Linked DNA regions of Homo sapiens: region 1 is linked to region 2. A link means that fine-mapping ties the variant in region 2 to the expression of a gene that starts in the linked region. Tissue or cell type: atrial appendage. Region 2 holds a variant in brackets; the other region holds the start of a gene. All regions are shown on one strand. Distances are from middle to middle.

Region 1 (8,106 bases), 37 kb after region 2:
GTCTCAAACTCCTGGCCTCAAGTGATCCACCCGCCTCAGCCTCCCAAAGTGTTGGGATTACAGGCATGAGCCACTGCACCCGGCCAACTAGGTGTAGTACTGAACAGTACAAATAGGAAAGCAGGACTATTCTGATGATCATTCTGACTACTCCCTCCTATCTATCTATCTATCTATCTATCTATCTATCTATCTATCTATGCATCTATCTTTCTGCCTACCTACCTATCTACAGGATCTTCCTGTGTCACCCAGGCTGGAGTGCAGCGGTGTGATCACAGATCACCACAGCCTCGAACTCCTATGCTCAAGCAATTCTCCCACCTTAGCCTCCCAAGTAACTAGGACTACAGATACACGCCACCACACCCAGCTAATTTAAAAAATTTTTATAGCAACAGGGTCTCACTATGTTGCCCAGTCTGGTCTTAAACTTTTGGGCTCAAATGATCCTCCTGCCTTGGCCTCCCAAAGTCCTGGGATTATAGGCATTAACCACACCTGGCCAATTTTGTTTGTATTTTAAATGCTATTTGGGGCTTTCATAATCCAGAACATTGTGAGTATAGACTTGGCTAGACTGAGGTTCACTGTCCCTTCTTGATGATACCCTGGCAAATACTGTTTCTGGCGATGAGTTGGGCAGCCAGGTAGGGCACCCTCTGAAGCAGCACATCTGGAACAAGAAGAAACTTGGACTTCATCTGCGTTTCAAACAGAAGCTTTTGCCAGTAAGGAAATTCAAGGTGGACCAGAACCATGGAAAATGCTGAAAGGAGAGTTAGCTCAAGTGCCAAATGTCCCCATTGGCCTACACCTTGGCTCATGCTTGTTTGGGTTTGGGGCTGTGTGAGTTTGGGACTCCTGTTCTGCATTTATTCATTCAAGAAATATTTATCAAAGCCTGTTATGTGCAAGGGATGTGGACAAAGGAAAACACGTTTTTATTTTATTTTATATTTATTTTATTATTATTACTTTTTGAGATGGAGTTTCACTCTTGTTGCCCAGGCTGGAGTGCAATGGCACAGTCTCAGCTCACTGCAACCTCTGCCTTCTGGGTTCAAGCGATTCTCCTGCCTCAGCCTCCCAAGTAGCTGGGATTACAGGCGCCCGCCACCACACCCAGCTAATTTTTTTTTTTTTTGAGATGGAGTCTTGCTCTGTCACCCAGGCTGGAATGCAGTGGCATGATCTCGGCTCACTGCAACCTTCGCCTGCTGGGTTCAAGCAATTATCCTGCCTCAGCCTCCTGAGTAGCTGGGACTACAGGCATGCGCCACCATGCCCAGCTAATTTTTTGTATTTTTAGTAGAAACGGGGTTTCGCCATGCTGGCCAGGCTGGTCTTGAACTCCTGACCTTGTGATCCGCCCGCCTTGGCCTCCCAAAGTGCTGGGATTACAGGTGTGAGCTACCACACCTGGCCGCTAATTCTTGTATTTTTAGGAAAGATGGAATTTCACCATGTTGGCCAGGCTGGTCTTGAACTCCGGACCTCAGGTGATTCACCCGCCTCGGCCTCCCAAAGTGCTGGGATTTCAGGCATGAGCCACTGTGCCCGGCCACAAAACACATTTTTAAAATACTAATGTGGGAACATATACTAAGTGAGGAGGAGTGTCCCTACAGCAGGTATAGATTTGGCAAAGGAAGGCACCCAGTTGTCCTGTGCTTCCTGAGGAAATTGTCCCAAACAGTCCTTGTTGATTCCTTGTTTTCACTGGACCACCTCCCTCTTCTATGGTCTGAATGTGTCCCTCCCTACCTCAGATTCATAGATTGGAATGTAATCGCCAATGTGATAGTATTAAGAAGTGGAGCCTTTGGGAGGTGATTAGGTCATGAAGGCAGAGGCCTCATGGATAGGATTAGGGTCTTTATAAAAGGTCTTGAAGGAGTGGATTTGAACCATCCTGTCCCACCATGGGAGCAACAAGTCACCATCAATGAGGAACAGAGCCCTCGTCGGACACTGAACCTGTTGGCATCTCTTATTTTTTTTTATTTTTAGAGATGGTCTTGCTCTGTTGCCCAGGCTGGAGTGCAGTGGCGTGATCATAGCTGACTGCAGCCTCAAACTCCTGGGCTCAAGCAATCCTCCTGACTCAGCTTCCCAAGTAGCTGGAACTACAGGTGTGCACCACCATGGCTGGTTAATTTTCTTTTTATATTTGTAGAGACGGGGTCTCACAGCATTGCCCAGTTTGGTCTCAACCTCCTGGGCTCAAGTAATCCTCCTGCCTCAGGCTCCCGCAGTGCTGGGATTACATGCATGAACCACCATGCCCAGCCCCTACTGCCATCTTGATCTTGGACTTCCCAGCCTCCAGAACTGTGACCAATACATTTCTATTATTTATAATTACAGTCTGTGGTGTTTTGTTACAGCAGCATGGACTAAGATTCCCCTTCTTTTCCTTCACTGTGTCCTCCTTCCTCTCCTTGGTCCTTACTGTGGATGCAAGATTCATGAAATGCCCTCTCTTCCTACCCTTCCAAATATACACCTTGCCAGATCCCAGGAGCTATACAGCACACCCTGCCTCCTGCCATGGCCCCTCCATATCTCCCACCGCCTTGGGGCCCTTCAGCACTGTAGAAACGCTTGAAGCTTTCCTTCTACAGAGTGTGAAGTCTGGGATGATGTAATATATGGTGCTCTCATGGTGACTCTGGGCCTCTCAGCCTGTGAAGAAACATAAAAAAGTGTGAATTTCCGGGCATCCCCACAGACAGCAGGAATTCTTTGCAGTTTTAAGGAATCGAGCACCTCTGCCATTGACACCACTACACTTTTGGCTAAGCAAAGGTGTGCCCCCATAACACTAGCAGCACTAGAGTGGGGCTTCATGTTTAGATGGGTTGGGGGAGGGGGGAAGGGACACCTCCCACTGCTTTCAAAGGGAGCCCACAGAAGGGACACTGCTCAGAAACTACCTCAGCAGGGAGGGGCGGGGAAGAGGAGGAAGGAGGAGAAAACAGGGTGGAGTAGGGGGAGGAAGAGAGGGAGGACCTTGGGCAGAGCAGGGAAGCCAACCTGAGCAAACACAGCAGCCCGAGTGTTCCCAAGGCCAAAATGCTGAGAACGTCCACTCCTAATCTGTGTGGTGGTCTGCATTGCCGGGCCCCCTGGCTCTCTTCTGGCATTCTCTGCCTCTGCCTCATATTCTTGTTGGGCCAGGTGGGCTTGCTGCAGGGACACCCCCAGTGCCTGGATTACGGGCCCCCTTTCCAGCCCCCTCTGCACCTTGAGTTTTGCTCTGACTATGAGTCCTTCGGCTGCTGTGATCAGCACAAGGACCGCCGCATCGCTGCCCGGTACTGGGACATCATGGAATATTTTGATCTGAAGAGACATGAGCTGTGTGGAGATTACATTAAAGACATCCTTTGCCAGGTAGTGAAAAGTGCCTTCCAGCCCCAGGGGTTTGGGTGCTGGGCTGCATGGTGTGGGTCCTGAGCGGAGGGTGCTTTGGGAGCCCAGCCCTTTAGAAGTTCATGTGCCGGGTGCCTCATCTTGGAGCTGCCGGCTTTGGACACGCACACTGACATGAGTGTGTGCTGAATTTGGTCTCCATGGGTTCCCCAAAGCTCTCCCTCTGGGATTCTGCTGGCCCTGATTCTTCTCCAGGCTCCAGGAGAATGAGAGGGACACTCTTCCTGGAGCTCTCAGAGCAGCCATTATTTGCCACACTCCCTCTGTGGTGCATGGCAAATAATTATTTGCATCCTCTGCGGTGCTCAGAGAGCTAGGCACTTAAACCCGTGGAATTTACCGAGCGCGTTAAGGGAGGGAGTGGTGGCATCTGCTGGGGTCCAGTCCTTTTCATCTGGGTGATTTGTGCCAGGGCATCTCTGGCGTCACCCTGGCGGTGGCAGGGGTTGGAGACTCTCTCCAGAGTTCTGTCTGCCCAGCACTCCAGAGCTGGAAGAGAGAGATGCAAGCTGCTGAGTAGCAGTGACTCACAGAGTTTCTGCTTCTCCTGGTTGCCCAACAGCCAAAATCCACATGCCTGGGAGGCATCGTTTTGATTGAGCTCAGCCTGAAAACAAGACGGGTGTAGGCTGCACACACAGACTTTGTAGGAAGAGGGTGTTTGGGGGTTAATGGGGAGAGGTCAGCATTTGGAAAGCTGATAAAAGAGGCTGCCTGGGGAGGACCCCTCTAATGATGTTGGGGAGGAGAGGCAAGAAGTCCAGGCAGCCTTTTGAACTGAGACCCCCTGGGCTTGTCAGCACAATGACTTGGCTATCCACAGGCATCTGTTCATGACTCCTGGCGCCACTGTTCCTGAGCCTGCAGACCACTGTAACTCCCACATAGGGCGTGAAGTGGTTAACCGAGCTTCCCAGAGTCCAGGAGAGAATTACAGCTGAGCCTGGCCCAGAAAGTCAGCCACCTGGGTGGCACCGCCTGGGGCTGTCCTCTTAGACACCACTCCACAGCTGTTTCCTGGAGAATTAACTCTAGGATTCCCATTAGGGTAGAAGCTGAGCTTTTACAAGCAGCACTGAGAATGTTTATTTCTGAGATCATCCCTGGTAAAAATTTATACCCCTGACCCTTCCCTCTTGCATGAGGTTTCAGAAAGTCAAAGTCAGCAGCTCTGTTGTTTTAGGGATTTGAGGAATAAGAACAATTTCAGCCAAACAGTCCTACACGTGTTTATTTATTCACATTTATAAGGTCCTCTTTCTTCCCCAACGTATGTAGTGTGTACCCAGCAATGATTCTGCAGGCAGTTGTTATGATCCTCATTTTACTGATGAGGGCTCAAGAGTTTAGATGACTTACCCAAGGTAAAACAATCCTGGGGCACAGAGCCAGATGCTCAGGCTCCAAGTTTTGTGCCTTTTGATCACACCGTGCTAAAGTATAGTTACAGCAGCACTGGCTTGTTTACTTAACGGTTTTCTGAGCTCCCCAAACTATATGCTCCATTGGAAGAGAGACTTTGTGCATTTCGCTCACTGCTGCATCCCAATCAATGTAGAGAACGGTGCCTGGCACGTAAGACAGACTCAACAGGAGAGTCACATAGGACTTTTATTTATTTATTTATTTATTTATTTTTTGAGACAGAGTCTTACTCTGTCACTCAGGATGGAGTGCAGTGGCACGGTCTTGGCTGACTACAACCTCTGCCTCCCGGCTTCAAGCGATTCTCCTGTCTCAGCCTCCTGAGTACCTGGGACTACAGGCACATGACACCATGCCTGGGTTTTTTTATTTTTTTAATTTTTTTATTTTTAGTAGTGACAGGGTTTCACCATGTTGGCCAGGCTGGTCTTGAACTCCTGACCTTAGGTGATCTGCCCCCCTCATCCTCTCAAAGTGCTGGGATTACAGGCGTGAGCTACTGCGCCTGGCTAGAGACCTTATGGGCTTTGATTTTCTTCCCTTTGAAGTAGGGAAGTATCTGTTCATTTACTGAGCTAATTGAGTAGAAGCAAATTTGCAAACTCTAAATGGCTGCATGAGAGTGTGCCATAGTGATGGTTCTCTTTCCACAGCCCCCTTCTATTCTCTAGTATTGGATCCTTAATTCAGCCTCCCTTCTCCCTTTTTCCCAGTCTCCGAGAGTGGACAGAATGAGCAAGGGGACACTTAAGAGTGGGTCATGTTGCTTCTTGATAGCTGCTGTGATAAGTGTCTTAAATGGAAACAGACACCCCGAGGGGAGCCTGCGAATCTCTGAGCTCCTTCTTCCACTCTGCCCAATGACCGAAAGCTGACTCTGCAGCGTACAATCAGAGGAAATAAGAGAGAACAGGGAACTCACATATACATGAAAAATGCTGCTGGTCCTTTTGTGAAGCGATGGCAGCACAGAGGTGAATGAGATGGTTCTGCACAGGCTGGCTGGCTCAGGAGAGTCCTTAGTGATCAGAAGGGGGCTTCTGGGCCAATGGGTGAACTCTGCTCTAATGCACGGCTCCAAACGACACCCTTTGAATTGGGCTTTCTTACCTTCCTAATCTCAGTTGCCTCTGTCTTTCATCACTACTGGGAGTCGCTCGTCTGCTCACAATATTCTATTTTCCTCCTAAAAAATGTTATAGTCTAGGGAGGTCCAAGTAGCAGATACTCCTTTGAGCAAATAGTCCTTATATGTTTGTGTAAGGAGCAGGCATATTGCCCTATAGCCACAATTCAAATGTGTATAGGTTCCAGCATGGTACTTTGCATATATTAAACACTGAAATTTTTAAAATCAATAATTAAAGAAATTGCTAAACACCTAATCTCTGAGAGTGATACATCCAATGTCAATTCTGATAACTTTATTTTTCATTGTAAAATATTCCAAAAATATGGAAAAGCACAGAAAAATAATTAACACTGTATCTCCAACAACCAGATTTGAACAAATGTAAAATTTTTGCCAAATTGTTTCAGATTTGTATAAAGAAATAACATCTTGGTAGATATAGCATCCATAAGAAAATGAGGCTGGGCCGACATGGTGGCTCATGCCTGTAATCCCAGCACTTTGGGAGATCGAAGAGGCAGGAGAATCACTTGAGCCTAGGAGTTAGGAATCAGCCTGGGCAACATGGTGAGGCCGTTTCTATGAAAAATAAAATAAAATGAAAATTAAAAAATAAGAAAGAGATCTAGAAATTTAGTAATATCTTTTTGAAAAAATATTCATGCATCATTTAATAAAACTTTAAATGTCAAAAACTAAGCTGAAATGTTAGAGATAGTACAGTGAATATGAGAGATTTTCCCTGTTTTCTGCCTTCTAGGAGCATTAACTAGGTAGAAAATCACAGAGAAGAGTTTTAGCAGCAGTTGGTAACAAAAACTCCAAAATCCTGATTTTTTCCGCCTAGCACCATTTTTTCTTTCTGCTTGCTCAAAACTTGAGACAAGTGCCGGTGTGGCAGGTCTGATGCTGAGCCTGAGCTCCGCGTTCTTTTTTAGGAGTGCTCGCCCTACGCAGCCCACCTCTACGACGCCGAAAACACCCAGACGCCTCTCCGGAATCTCCCGGGCCTCTGCTCTGATTACTGCTCTGCCTTCCATTCTAACTGTCACTCAGCCATTTCCCTGCTGACCAATGACCGCGGCCTCCAGGAGTCTCATGGAAGGGACGGTACCCGCTTCTGCCACCTCCTGGACCTTCCTGACAAGGACTATTGCTTCCCTAATGTCCTGAGGAACGACTATCTCAACCGCCACCTGGGCATGGTGGCCCAAGATCCTCAGGGCTGCCTGCAGCTCTGCCTGAGCGAGGTGGCCAACGGGCTGAGGAACCCCGTCTCCATGGTCCATGCTGGGGACGGCACCCATCGCTTCTTTGTTGCCGAGCAGGTAGGAGTGGTGTGGGTCTACCTCCCTGATGGGAGTCGCCTGGAGCAACCCTTCCTGGACCTCAAGAACATCGTGTTGACCACCCCATGGATCGGGGATGAGAGAGGCTTCTTGGGGTTGGCTTTTCACCCCAAATTCCGCCACAATCGCAAGTTCTATATTTATTATTCGTGCCTGGACAAGAAGAAGGTAGAAAAGATCCGAATTAGTGAGATGAAGGTTTCTCGGGCTGATCCTAACAAAGCTGACCTGAAATCAGAGAGGTGAGAGGTACTCATGAGAGCCTACAGCTGTACTGTGTTCCGAAATAATGCCAACCAGGTCTGCGAGATAATAGAGGGGAACTTCACTGGTTTTAGAGCACTACTCGAACTGTTGAGAAAGGAGTCACTGTGGATTGAGAACGGCCCAAGTTAGCCTCTTGAGTTAAGGCTGTTTAATGGGATGTAGCCATCACCTTACAGTTACCCTAAATAAAGACATACTTTCCTGTCTTTACAAAGGGTAAGTAAGGACCAGCAGCCATAGGGGTCTGAGAAAGGATTATAGATAATATCAACATATGAAACATAATAGTAGCCTCTGATTATTATGTGCCATTAGATCCCAGGGCCTTTACTTTGAATGTGGGATTTCTTATTCTCACTGGAAGCTGTGGCACAAGGCCATCAAGCTATGGATGCATGGCCAGGTGAGGACTCAGTTTTAACTGACCCCAAGTTCATGCTCTTTCCACCCTACCACTCTGCCTTTGTTTTTCCTTCTTCTCCTTTCTCTCTTGTT
Region 2 (8,107 bases):
TGTGGATTAAGATGTACAGAAAGTAACTGATATCTCATCTTGTAATAGGTATGAGTGATTTCAGTGAAGAATTAAAAGGGCCTGTGACAGATGATGAAGAAGTGGAAACATCTGTGCTCAGTGGTGCAGGAATGCATTTTCCTTGGCTTCAAACATACGTAGAAACTGTGGGTAAGTAAAATAATAACATTGAGCCATTTTAACTTTAAGGAGGTGGTAAGATTCAATAGGGATACAAAATGAATAACCAGACTGGTTTAATTTTCAAGAGGAATATGTGGAGGGTTTTTTGGCTAAAAGCCAAAAGAAATCTTTTTTCTTTTAGAATTCTTTGCCCTTGGATTAATAATAGATAGTCTGTATTATGCTAGATACACATTTTTTCCAGTAATACTTACTGAGCACTTTTATCTCTGGCATTGATTAAATATTGGGGAGTCATAGGTGAAGATATGGTCTCTGCCATTGAGGAAAACATGCCTAGGAAGTGTTCAAGAAGTTGCTGTTGAATTGCATTGAAATTATTTCGAATAGAATTGATCGTGTAATAGATTTTTTTTTTTTTTGAGACAGAGTCTTGCTCTGTTGCCCACGCTGGAGTGCAGTGGCTAGATCTTGGCTCACTGCAACCTCTGTCTCCCAGGTTCAAGTGATTCTACTCAGCCTCCCGAGTAACTGAGATTACAGGTACCAGCCACCACGCCTGGCTAGTTTTTGTATTTTTAATAGAGACAGGGTTTCACCATGTTGGGCAGGCTGTTCTTGAACTCTTGACCTCAAGTGACCTGCCCACCTCAGCCTCCCAAAGTGGTGGGATTACAGGCATGAGCCACTGCACCCGGCCTAGATAAAAGAGCATTTTCCCCCATTTTTATCTAATGTAAATGCAAGCATGATTTTCTATGGGATAAAATTTCCCCCATTTTTATCTAATATAAATGCAAGTATGTTTTTCTATGGGATAAATTCCCTATAAGAATATATTTAATATAAGTATAAATAAAAGAAGCTATTATCTGTATGCTGGCATATTGAGTGGTATAGTCCTGGGATTACATTTGAACCAGCATTTTACTTACTGCCCTTAAATATGTGTTTTTTTGCCCAGCCTTTTCTCCCCTTGACAGAGATTCCTTGGCTCCTAAAATTTCGCTTCCATTTTTTTCTTTTGATCTAAGTATCATCCCATTTAATGATCTCAGTAAATTCTCAATAAATTTTTATGCTAGGCAGTTTAGGTAGGATGAAACTGAATCTCAAAGACATTAAACTCTTAAGTGGTATCAGGAGTCAAATCCAGGTTTGTCTGATCTCAAAGCTTACACTTTTAACGACTGAGATGCATTTTTAAAAATGAGACAATATATGTAAAGTACCTAGCATAGTATCTCATGCATAATGAGTGTTGAAAAATAATAGTGCCTTTCCTCTCCTCATTTTATTTTTGCTAGATTAATGCACATGGCTTAAGGCAGATTTGAATGAATGATACTTCAGAGGTAGTGCTACCGCATCCCTGGTAGGGAACAAACTAGTAATTTAAATTTCCTATAGTTAAGTCATACTTGGGTATGTTTCTGTTACCAGTGTTCTATAGAAAGTCTGAGTCAGTCTGCAAGCAGATAGGTTTAAGACCAAAGACCAAAATTTACATGCTTAGGAATATTTTATATGTCATGGATAGCCTGTTAAACCGAAAATACTTTTGGTCTGCAATGAGAAAATACTTGCAATTAATATTGACATTGTGCTGGTAATTAACCATAATAGGAAAACAAAATTGCCTAACAATTGTTCTATTTATTTTTTATGCTGGTAGATATCTTTTGGCTTTTTGAAGGGCATGCCCAGCAACCCCCTTAGAATAAAAACTTTGAAGACAGGGCCAGTCTGGATTGAAGCTGTATGATGAGTACCTGCGATAGTGCTTGGGACACAGTGGTGCCCAAAAAATACTTGTTGACAGATTGATAAGTTTCCAGATTCTTTGAGTAGCATATTAGAAGTTAGGTTGATGACACTAGTTCTTTATTGTACATCTCTATTCCATGTAAAAATGTGTTTTCCTTGACAATTTTTTTTTCTTAAAGTCATCAGGATCAAGTAAGACTATCTTTTGCTCATTAAAGAATGAAATGAGAGGAGAACTTTTCCTGAGGTAGCTAGGCTAGGTTGGAAGACAAAAGTATTTTCCAAACATTTAGGTATAGTTATCTAAAGTCAATTTATAATCTCAGTTGTGAAAGCTTGAGCGATAGAAGGGAGCTTAGCCTGAGAACAGTTCTCTCCTTTAGGTAAATAAGGGATGTTTTAAGGACGAGGTGTTTTGTCAGTTTCCTAGGCTAGCTGGCAGGTATTGCCACTGATGCCGAGCAGCTTTGGTGTAGATCTTATAAAATGCAGCTTCTGATTGAGAGAGCTGGGCATAGTACTCTGTAGTTGTAATGAGATTCCAGGTGATACTTCTGCTGCATGCCAGGACCACATTGAGTAGCAAGGGCAGGTCCCCAGGTGATTTGTATGTACATTCAAAAGTCTGAGAACACTAGTCTAGCACAGTAGTCTTCAAACTTTTCACTTTTGTATCCCCTAGTTTTTTCTGAAAAATTGAGTACTACCTTGCATAGTTTTAAGGAATCATCTGAAAAAATTTTATTGTATGTTTAATATTTGCAAGAGATAAAATTTCCAGCATGTTGGTATTTTTAAATGACTATATATTACTTTATATGTGATGGAGTCCAAATAGCACAGGAATGGCATAGGGTTTTAATACCTTGCGTTATTCATTTTAAAAAAAATTATGAACAAGCTTTTAATAGATGGACATTTTATGTTCCTCTTTGTTGTACTTCTTGCAATAAAAGTATGTATCAATATTTATACTTTTTTTGTTTATATCCTGTAAGTTTTAAGAATTAAAACTTTTTCTAGGTTGAGACATTGCTATCATTAATAGTTGTACACAGCTGATCAATATAACGTGTATTAAACGTGTTGTTGGCCAGGTGTGGTGGCTCATGCTCATAATCCCAGCACTTTGGGAGGCCAAAAGGAAGGATCACTTGAACCCAGGAGGTCTAGGCTATGGTGAGCTGTGATTGTGCTAGTGCGGTCCAGCCTGGGTGACAGAGCAAGACTCTTTTTTTTTTTTTTTTAATAAAGTTATCTAAAACTTTTCCCCAATTTTTTATGTATTTGTGGGTGACTTTTATGTATTTCTAGAATGAGAAAACATTTAGCATTGATTCTGCTATTTTTTTTAATTGACATAAATTCTGAGAAACCTTAGTCACATAAGTAAGTAGATGGCAGTGAATGGAGTTTAATTATAGCCGTGTATCAGGTCTGTGAATTTTTTCTAAATTATTGATGAAAAATTGCATAATGATTTATTGTAAAAAATTACGTTGTTCTGCAGTTTTGATGAGCAAAGAATTGGGAATTGCCTAACTTGCAAAAGGAGATGTTAGAGTTATTTACTTTTTCAACACCTGTGTTTTCACCTTCAGATAGTGTGTAATGATTTTGATTGTGAAGCTTTGACTATGTAGGCACAGCTGTCTAGGAGATTAACTTGTGGAAAGAGTATGTAAGGAAATCAAATATCTGCAAGTTAATTGTTTTAAAAGTATCTTTGTAAAGTACCTGTTGGTCTTTGTGTACTTACTGGGGTACAATTACCCAGCTGGACTAGAGGGGTCTCATAGTTACGTGGGAAGATAAGAAGATGTAGCAATGTAACTAGTCATTCATATAATAGCACTGTATCTAAGCCCAAATGTTCTTAACATTGGGATTGCCAATACTTTAGAGATATAAATGCTAATTTTTGCAACTGTTTTAATCTCATTTGTATATAATATCATTGAGTTACTAGGAATTTGGTCCTTAAAAAATAAAAGCCCACTTGGGGTTTGCAGAACATGGGTAGGTAATAAAGACCATGTTTGCCTAGAATGACCCTGACATTTTACCCATTCTAAATACCTGGGACTGTGCTTTTGGGGGCCTGTTTGAGAGATTCTCCGCA[A/G]ATTATTTGGTACAAGGATGAAAGGATGATTGAATCAGATTTAAAGGATCTGGTGACTCTAGTAGCCCCAAAACATCAAATTAGAAATGTTTTTATCTGCTAAAAATAATTAATATAATGTAGAAGGGTTTGTTTCAAGTGAAGCTGGCTTTGGTACTGGGAATGGGCTGGGTCAAGTAATGCCTACTGTTTACTTGTTAAAACTTCTTATCAGAAGTAAGTTTTTTGAATAGTTGAACTGGAGCCACTTGGATAAAAACTCTCTTCTTTTTCGTTTTTATAGCCATTGGAGGGAAAAGGAGGAAGGATTTTGCTCAGACAACAAGTGCTTGTTTAAGTTTTATCCAAGAAGCTCTGCTGAAGCACCAATGGCAGCAAGCTGCAGAATACATGTACAGTTATTTTCAGACCTTGGAAGATTCAGATAGCTACAAAAGGCAGGCTGCACCTGAGGTAAATAAAATTTGAGTTTGCTGGAAGAAATGATAGATTCCCAGAAGTTTATGCCTACAGCTTCACCTACAGTAGCTTTTACAGAATCTCAGTGATTTTGCTAAAAGCTACTAAAACTACTTTTGAGTGGAGAGTTTGTATTGGGACCTTTTTTGCACACTTCTTTTTACCTCTTATTTTAAAGGGGACTAAAATGTTCATTCCAATAATTCTTCCTTTTCCCCCCTCTTTATGGATGTTTCCCATCATCATGTAAAAATTTTGTTATTCTATCTTTTTTTTTTTTTTTTGAGACGGAGTCTTGCTCTGTCGCCAGGCTGGAGTGAAGTAGCGCGATCTCGGCTCACTGCAATCTCTTACCTCCTGGGTTCAAGTGATTCCCCTGCCTCAGCCTCCTGAGTAGCTGGGACTACAGGCATGTACCACCACGCCCGGCTAATTTTTTGTATTTTGGTAGAGACGGGGTTTCACCAGGTTGGCCAGGACGGTCTCAATCTCTTGACCTCGTGATCCGCCTGCCTCGGCCTCCCAAAGTGCTGGGATTACAGGTGTGAGCCACCATGCCCAGCCTATTCTATCTTAAAATCATCTCTTGACCCAAACTTCCCCCATAGACTATACTTCATTGTTTTACTCTCTTTCAGCAAAACTTCTTGAAAGAGTTGTTCTCTTTTTCCAACTAGAGTGATCCTTTTTTTTTTCGTTTTATCAAGACGTTTTTTATACGCCATCACCCACTTAAATTGTACAATTCAATGTATTTTCATACATTTACAGAGTTGTGCAACCAACCATTACCACACTCTAAATTTAGAACCTTTTTTTTCTCCCATGAAACCAAAACCCTGTACCCACTTGCAGTCCTTCCCCATTCCTCCTCACAGCTGCCGGACACTGGCAGCCACTAATCTATTACTTTCTTTTTCTTTTTTTGTTTTCTTTTGAAACGGAGTCTTGCTCTGTTGCCCAGGCTGGAGTGCAGTGGCATGATCTCTGCTCACTGCAACCTCCAGCTCCTGTGTTCAAGTGATTCTTGTACCTCAGCCTCTTGGGTGGCTGGGATTGCAGGCATGCACCACCACACCTATCTAGTTTTTTGTATTTTTAGTGGAGACTGGGTTTCACTCTGTTGGCCAGGCAGGTCTTGAACTCCTGGCCTCAAGTGATCTGTCCACCTCGGCCTCCCCAAAGTGCTGGTATTGCAAGCGTGAGCCACTATGGCCAGCCTAATCTATTTTCTATTCTGGACATTTCATATAAGTGGTTTTGTACAATATGTGGCCTTTTGTAAATGATTTCTTTCACTTGGCATAATGTTTTCATGGTTTATCCATGTTGTAGCATGTATAAGTACTTCATTACTTTTATTGCCAAATAATCTGTCATATGGAAATACCATGTTTTATTTGTCCATTTATCAGTTGTTAGACACTTAGGTTGTTTTTGCTTTTCGGTTATTGGAAATAATGCTTCTGCGAACATTTGTGTACAGGTTTTTGTGTGGACGTTTGTTTTAATTTCTCCTGGGTCTACACCTGGGAGTGGAATTGCTGGTCATATGGTAACACTATGTTTAGCCTCTTGAGGAACTGCCAGACTGTTTTCCAAAGTGGCCATACCATTTATATTCTCACCAGCAATATCTGAGGCTTCTAATTTCTCTAATCCTTGCCAATATTTTGTTATTGTCCTGTCTTACTGATAATAGTCATCCTTGTGGTTGTGAAGTGGCATCATCCTGGTTATGATTTGCATTTCTCTAATGACTAATGATTCAGAGTGAGCTTTTTAAAACATATCAGATCATGTCACTCCTCTGCTGAAAACACTGTAATAGCTTTCCATTTCATTCAGTAAAAGCCAAAGTCATAATTGCCTATAAATTCCTATGTGATGTGCTCACTTCCTTTCCTTGTTTGACCTCTCTGACTTCATCTCCTGAAACAGGTGGAGCATTCCGAATTCAAAAATGTGAAAACCAGAATGCTTCAAAGCTTTTTCATTACTGACATGAGATAGTGACACCTTTGCTTTCTAATGGTTCAATGTATACAAATTTTGTTTCATGCACAAAATTTTAAGAATATTATATAAAATTACCTTCAGGCTATATGTATAGGTGTATATGAAACATAAGTGAATTTCATGTTTAGCCTTTGGTCCTATCCCCAGTCTCATTATGTATATACAAATATTTAAAAAGCGGAAACAATTTCAAGTCTGAAACATTTCTGGTCCCAACGATTTCAGATAAGGGATACTCAACCTGTATTATCCTGCTTGTTTTTTCTTTTCCATCCTCACTGGTCTCCTTGTTCTTACTTGAATGGGCCAGGCATATTCCTGACTGATTGCCTTTGCCTTAACCAGTTCTTGGAAAGCTCTTTCTTCAGCTATCACTGCAGCTACCCTCCTTCAAGGCCCCTTTTCATTGAGGCCTACTTTGACTATTTAAAATTGCAATTGCCTTACTCCAACTGCAACCTGCACTTTCTGAATGGCACTCCTGATCTCCTTGTCCTGCTGCATTCTTTTCCTCTAACAGTTGACAATTTAATTATATTTCTTGGTTATTGTTTGTCTCTCTACATAGAATGTAAATTTCACAGGGCAGGGTTAAAACAGTGCCTGGCATATACTGCTAAATTTCTTCAGTAAAAGACAGTTTACCCACAAATAACTTGACATGAGTGTCTCATAGGTTTTACTAACACAGTCACCATTGCATCAATTAGTTATCTTCTAGAGCAAAAAAAATAAAAAAGAGAAGCTGAAAAAAAAGTTTAACCATTCATTGAAAATTTAATTTATGGACTTAAGTTACATACTCCTGTAAAACATTGAACATGTTACAGCCTCTTGTTGTCCAGATTTTGTTTTGTAAAATGAAGGAATTGGATCAGTGGTTTTTGAGCACTTCTTTGGCTCTCTTTGGATCACCTAGGGCTTTCATTCAAAGTATAAATTCCTTTACTCCACCCCTGTCTATTGAGTCAGAGTATCTTTTATTTGTATTTTTTTATTTTTTGAGATGGAGTCTCACTCACTTTGTCACCCAGGCTGGAGTGCAGTGGCACGATCTTGGCTCGCTGCAAGCTCCGCCTCCCGCCACGACGCCTGGCTAATTTTTTGTATTTTTAGTAGAGACGGGGTTTCACCGTGTTAGCCAGGATGGTCTCACTCTCCTGACCTCGTGATCCACCCGCCTCGGCCTCCCAAAATCCTGGGATTACAGGTGTGAGCCACCGCGCCTGGCCCAGAATACCTATTTTTAACTGGTGTCCCATGTAATTACTGTGTACACTGGTGGTGAGAATAGCTATCATAATCTCAAAGTTTTCTTTTTTTTTTTTTTCCTGCTTTTCTTCCCCCCCTGCATTTACCCATCCCTGGTGGTAGGTGATCCAAGACCCAGGTTTTCTTTAAGCTCCCAAATACTACAGTGTGATATTCTACAAATGAAATCTTGATATCTCTGAGTTGGGAAGATGAGGATCCTTATATCAAATGATAATATGTGTATCATATATAACTATAGCAGTGATAGTGTGTGTATCCACATATAACCAATATGTATGTTCATAGAAATAATTGATTTACAGTTCAGTTTAATTTACTTTG

Which allele goes with the higher level. Positions count from the first base shown, and alleles are read on the strand shown. Sizes are in standard deviations (SD) of each study's normalised expression.
With allele G in place of A in region 2, the expression in atrial appendage of the gene that starts at base 3,019 in region 1 is higher (small effect, 0.30 SD a copy in GTEx).

What was found. PIP is the estimated chance that this variant, and not a neighbour inherited with it, causes the effect.
Region 1: HHIPL2 starts here. The variant in region 2 is fine-mapped to the expression of HHIPL2 in atrial appendage (GTEx, PIP 0.95).

The regions. Positions count from the first base shown.
Region 1 is chr1:222,543,017-222,551,122 of GRCh38, reverse strand. It overlaps HHIPL2 (HHIP like 2), which reads left to right and starts at 3,019. Exons shown (of 9, transcript NM_024746.4): 1 at 3,019-3,399; 2 at 6,934-7,586. The coding sequence starts at 3,079.
Region 2 is chr1:222,580,507-222,588,613 of GRCh38, reverse strand. TAF1A (TATA-box binding protein associated factor, RNA polymerase I subunit A) reads left to right here. Exons shown (of 11, transcript NM_005681.4): 2 at 49-171; 3 at 4,317-4,486. The coding sequence starts at 51. Among named protein-coding and RNA genes, the nearest start is that of TAF1A-AS1, 5.4 kb to the left of the region's middle. RefSeq lists an enhancer at 6,129-6,268. The variant A/G (reference allele first, on the strand shown) is at 4,034.